2 separate regions of the Homo sapiens genome follow, and region 1 is linked to region 2. A link means that fine-mapping ties the variant in region 2 to the expression of a gene that starts in the linked region. Tissue or cell type: whole blood. Region 2 holds a variant in brackets; the other region holds the start of a gene. All regions are shown on one strand. Distances are from middle to middle.

What was found. PIP is the estimated chance that this variant, and not a neighbour inherited with it, causes the effect.
Region 1: ERC1 starts here. The variant in region 2 is fine-mapped to the expression of ERC1 in whole blood (INTERVAL, PIP above 0.99).

What each region holds. Positions count from the first base shown.
Region 1 is chr12:989,938-992,621 of GRCh38, reverse strand. ERC1 (ELKS/RAB6-interacting/CAST family member 1) reads right to left here and starts at 1,399. Exons shown (of 19, transcript NM_178040.4): 1 at 1,300-1,399. It also overlaps a transcript of RAD52 not described here. RefSeq lists silencers at 585-879, 1,085-1,594, 1,615-1,724, 2,135-2,184 and enhancers at 883-1,444, 2,006-2,568.
Region 2 is chr12:1,482,894-1,485,577 of GRCh38, reverse strand. All of the region lies in intron 18 of ERC1 (ELKS/RAB6-interacting/CAST family member 1), which reads right to left. Among named protein-coding and RNA genes, the nearest start is that of LINC00942, 16 kb to the left of the region's middle. The variant T/C (reference allele first, on the strand shown) is at 1,316.

The sequences.
Region 1 (2,684 bases), 490 kb after region 2:
TGACACACCTGCCCCCAAAATGTTTTTAAAGCACTTGACTCCAAGAACATTTCTCAGAAATTGAGGAGCCTACCAAAAAAAAAGAGTTCCATTTCATTTTAAAGTGTTTTAATAAAGACTGCAAGAAACATAACTGCAAATGAGAAATAAAATTTCAACAATTTAGCACTGAACACAAAATGTCTAAAAGTCAAGGTGTACTGAGCAAGCAACACGCTATAAAAGACGGTTGTACTTTAAAACATTTAAGCATTTTTCATATAATTAGCTCCAACAGAACTATTCCAATTGTTCACTTTATCCACCCAAAGCAGTCAACCACAACCACCTGCAACTATTATTCAGCAATGTGCCTTCCAAAGCAACCACCTGAGTTTGGGGCCTTCTCTCAAGGGGCCAGGATAAAGCCTGTAAAAGGGTGGTATAAAGAGATCTTTTAGGCATTGGGGGGAAAAAAAACTGGAAGACACCACCTTGAAGGAGCTAAGCGTAATGCGACCCAAATGGTGGCTGCCGGAACGAAGTTGTCTAAACCGAAGATCTCCCTCTTCTTCGGTGTAAAACTTTCAGATACATCCACGCTCACAATTTACCTGAGCCAAAGTAAGGGGATTCTCTTCCCTCTCCGACCCCCCACCCACCCCGCCAGAAGAAAAAGAATCGAACCCTAAAGTAGAAACGTGAGATCTAGTGCAATAAAATAGGTTCTGCAACTGCCTCAAAGGCAACATGCACAGCTCATCGTCCTTTTGAAATACACTTCATCTTTTATCTCACCATTTCATCGAAAAGAAAAGAATCATCTTCAGCATTTTACATCACTCACCTAACCCAAAGATCCACCCTGACCGCACCCCAACCTCATGGCTCCCCAATTTCTCCGTCTCCCCACTACCTCGTCCGCGGCTTCACTAGTCCTAAGCCTCCCCCCCTCCGCTCCCCAAGTGCCCAGAGCCCCAGTCCCCACTCCCCCACCTCCCGCCCCAGGATCCCCACATCTACCGCCTCGGCTCCCGCCCGATCCCGGAGCCCGGCTGGGTGGAGCCCGCGGGTGGGCGCCGGTGGTCTGGGTGGGGCCCGCCCCTCCCCACCCCCCGGGCTGCCGAGGAGGGGGAGGGGGTCGCGAAGCCTCACCTACAGCTCCGCCCCTCCCCGGGGGCGCGTTGCCCTGCCCAGCCCAGCCCGGGCCGTGAGCAAGAAGCTGGGTAGGAAAGGCGAAAGCCTCAGCACTAGCGACAGGGGGGAAGCTCTGGGTCCCGCGCGACTTCCGCGCTGTCGCCGCCGCCGCGGCCGTCTCACCGTCCTCAGGGCTGCCGCTACTGCTGCTGCTGCCGCCCAGGCACCGCCGCCGCCGCCACTACCGCCGCCGCCGCCGCCACAGCACGGCCCAGGCGCCCGCGACGTCACCGCGCCCCGCCCCCTGCGCGAGACACCTAGCCCCGCCCCCAGCCCCGCCGCGGGGCGCAGCGCGCCTCCCCGGGCTCCCGGCTCGGCTGCCTCCCTTTCCCTCAGCCTCCCGGGAGCGTGACGCGGCGGCCCGGGGGCCTCCGGGCGCCTTCCGGGGCACGCGGGTGAGGAACTGGGAAGCGGGGGAAATCGGCGCCACGGCGGTCGATTAGCACCGAAACAGAGTGATGGGCGCGGAGCGTCCCTGCACACACACACACACTCACACACACACACACACGACCCCTGCGGCCACGGGAGGGGAGAGCCGGGGTCGGCTCCGCGAGCGCAGGGTGGCGCTTGTCTCCTCCTGCTTGCCGTAGGAAGTGGACGCTGGAAGCCCGAGGAGCCGCTTCGTGTCTTCCCAAACCTAAGCGGCGCCCCACCCCCTACTTCTCGTGGCCCGTTACGCCCGGGGCAGCCAAGCGCCGCGGGAGCAGCGCCGGGATCGACCCTGGCTGCTGGGGGGACGCTTTGTCCCAAGAAAGCTGGTTTTTTGCCCCTTAGCTTCGTGGAACGCGGCCGCGAAATTAGTGGTCTTCTGACCTGAGACTCGCGGGGCTGCGCACACGGGCATCGCCGAGGACCCCAGCAATGGACGTCGTGTCTGTGGTGATCCCGCCAGGACGCGGGGAGCGTGGGCGGAAATTAGTGTCCACGTTCCGACCCTGCGCTGTGCCAAACGCTGCTTCGGGAGCTGTTTATTTAGCCTCCGACAGCTAAGCGAATCGGCGGGCGGCTGGGGCCTGGTGCAACCCGATTTTCTCGTGCAGACTCGCAGCCGGCTTTGGTTTTGTTTTTTGTTTTTTGTTTTTTTTTTGGAGCCATGCAGAGGGTAGCTACAGCCATTAATTTAAGGATGTAGATAAGCTATCTCTAAACCAAGAAAGTAAGAATGGTGTGAATTATATTTATTCCCAGCCTTCCAGTGTTTATTAAAATAATTTTCGGTGTCCTTGAGAGGAGTTAAAAGCCATCATTTTACTCCTGCTTACCTCCGCCACCGTAATTAACCACTTTATACTGCCTCATAATCCCATTAACAAATTGCAGTCGCTCCTCAGCCTTCACATTCATTCACTCACCAGTTTCTACTGTTTCATCCTGCCCGGACTCTTAACTGTTCCCTCCCAGGATCGACATGCACTTGGATCATTGCAGTTTCTGGGCCTGCTGTCATCTCCCCCTTCAGTACTTCCCACATATGACTACCAACTGTTAGACGATGTGCTGCTGCC
Region 2 (2,684 bases):
CAAAAAACTCACAGAAGAAATACAAATGGCTAACAAACACAAAAATAATACCCAATTTCATTAATAATTAAATATGGCCAGATGCAGTGGCTCACGCCTGTAATCCCAGCACTTTAGGAGGCCAAGGTGGGCAGATCACAAGGTCAGGAGTTCAAGACCAGCCTGGCCAATGTGGTGAAACTCTGTCTCTACTAAAAATACAAAAACTAGCCAGGCGTGGTGGCGGGCGCCTATAATCCCAGCTACTTGGGTGGCTGAGGCAGAAGAATTGCTTGAATCCAGGAGGTGGAGGTTGCAGTGGGCTAAGATCACGCCACTGCACTCCAGCCTGGGTGACAGAGCGAGACTCTGTCTCAAAAAAAAAAAAAAAAAAAAAGAAATATAAACTTGACCAGGTTTGGGGACTCACACCTGTAATCCCAGCACTTTGGGAGGCTGAGGCAGGCAGATCACTTGAGCCTAGGAGTTCAAGACCAGCCTGCGCAACACAGCGAGACCCCATCTCTACAAAAAACTAAAACAAAAAAATTAGTCAGGTGTGGTTGTGCGTGCCTCTAGTTCTAGCCGCTCTGGAAGCTAAGGTGGGAGGAACTCTTGAGCCCAGGAGGTTGAGGCTGCAATGAGCTATGTGATTGTATTGCTGCACTCTAGCCTGCGCAACACAGCGAGACCCTGTCTCAAAAAAAGAAAAACAAGACCCAGCACGGTGGCTCACGCCTGTAATCCCAGCACTTTGGGAGGCTGAGGTGGCAGGCGCATCACGAGGTCAAGAGTTCGAGACCAGCCTGACTAGCATGGTGAAACCCCATCTCTACTAAAAAAAATACAAAAAATTAGCCGGGCATGGTGGCGTGCACCTGTAGTCCCAGCTACTCAGGAGGCTGAGGCAGGAGAATTGCTTGAGCCCGGGAGGCGGAGCTTACAGTGAGCCGAGATCACGCCACTGCACTCCAGCCTGGGCGAGAGCAAGACTCCATCTCAAAAAAAAAAAAAAGGAAAAGAAAAACTCAAAACAAACAAACGAACAAGAAATATAAACTACAGAGTTGGCTAGGGCATGGGAAGTGGGAACAGCAGAGCAACGACCTGTGGGACAATTGTAGGGAGGTGAGCAATTTGGTCTCATCAGCCAAATTTAATTGTATATGTCCTTTGACCAAATAATTCTACTTTTAGAGTATGTTCAACAGAAACACCAGTAAGAAATTTAAGAACGTATGTACAAGTATGTTTACTAAGGCAATTTGTAGGAACAAAGAATTTTTTTTTTTTTTGAGACGGAGTCTCGCTCTGTCACCAGGCTGGAGTGCAGTGG[T/C]GCGATCTCGGCTCACTGCAAGCTCCACATCCCAGGTTCACACCATCCTCCTGCCTCAGCCTCCCGAGTAGCTGGGACTACAGGTGCCCGCTACCACGCTCGGCTAATTTTTTGTATTTTTAGTAGAGATGGGGTTTCACCATGTTAGCCAGGAAGGTCTTGATCTCCTGACCTCGTGATCCGCCCGCCTCAGCCTCCCAAAGTGCTGGGATTACAGGCGTGAGCCACCACGCCCGGCTGGAACAAAGATTTTTTAAAGACCTCATTGAAGCTGGGCGCAGCGGCTCACGCCTATAATCCCAGCACTCAGGGAGGCCGAGGCAGGTGGATCACGTGAGGTCAGGAGTTTGAGGCCAGCCTGGCCAAAATGGTGAAACCCCGTCTCTACTAAACATACAAAAAAAATCGGTCACATGTGGTGGTGAGTGCCTGTAGTTCCCAGGTACTCGGGAGGCTAAGGCACAAGAAAAGCTTGAACCCCAGAGGCGGAGGTTGCAGTAAGGCGAGATCGCGCCACTGCACTCCAGCCTGGGTGACAGAGCAAGACTCTGTCTCCAAAAAAAAAAAAAAAAAAAAAAAAAAAAAAAAAAAAAAGCTCTCAGTGGCTGGAAGGAGTTTTGATTTTACTTTTACTTTACATACTTCTGTACTGTTTATAGCACAAGCAACATCAATTTTGCAATAAGAAATATACCAAAATATATAACATAAATACCTTTTAAAACTGTATATACTTTTAAAGGCATAATTCTGATACTCTACGACCTTAAGAAGGGAAAAATTGAAGTGTATAAAATATCCACTCAAAAAGTATTAACCAACTGGCCAATAAAAAGGAACGAAGTTCTGACACGTGACATTATGTAAAGCTACACTATGTAAAGTATATAAAAACATTACATTAAATGAAAGAAGCCGGTCTCAACAGACCACGTCTTGTATGATTCTATTCTTTTTTTATTTTTGAGACAGGGTCTCATTCTGTTGCTCAGGCTGGAGTGCAGTGTCAGGATCTCAGCTCACTGCAACCTCCACCTCCCAGACTCAAGTGATCCTCCTGCCTTAGCCTCCCAAGTAGCTGGGACTATATGCACATGCCACTACACCTGGCTAATTTTTGTATTTTTTTGTAGAGATGGGGTTTTGCCATGTTGCCCAGGCTGGTCTCGAACTCCTGGGCTCAAGCGATCTGCCCACCTTGGTCTCCCAAAGTGCTGGGATTACAGGCGTGAGCCACCATGCCCAGCCTGATTCCATTCTTGATGAAATTCCAGAGTAGCCAAATCCAGAGTTGGGAAGTAAGAGTGGCAGCTGCTTGGGGCTGGGGTAGGATGGGGTGATTGGCAGTGACTGCTAATAGGTGGGGGCT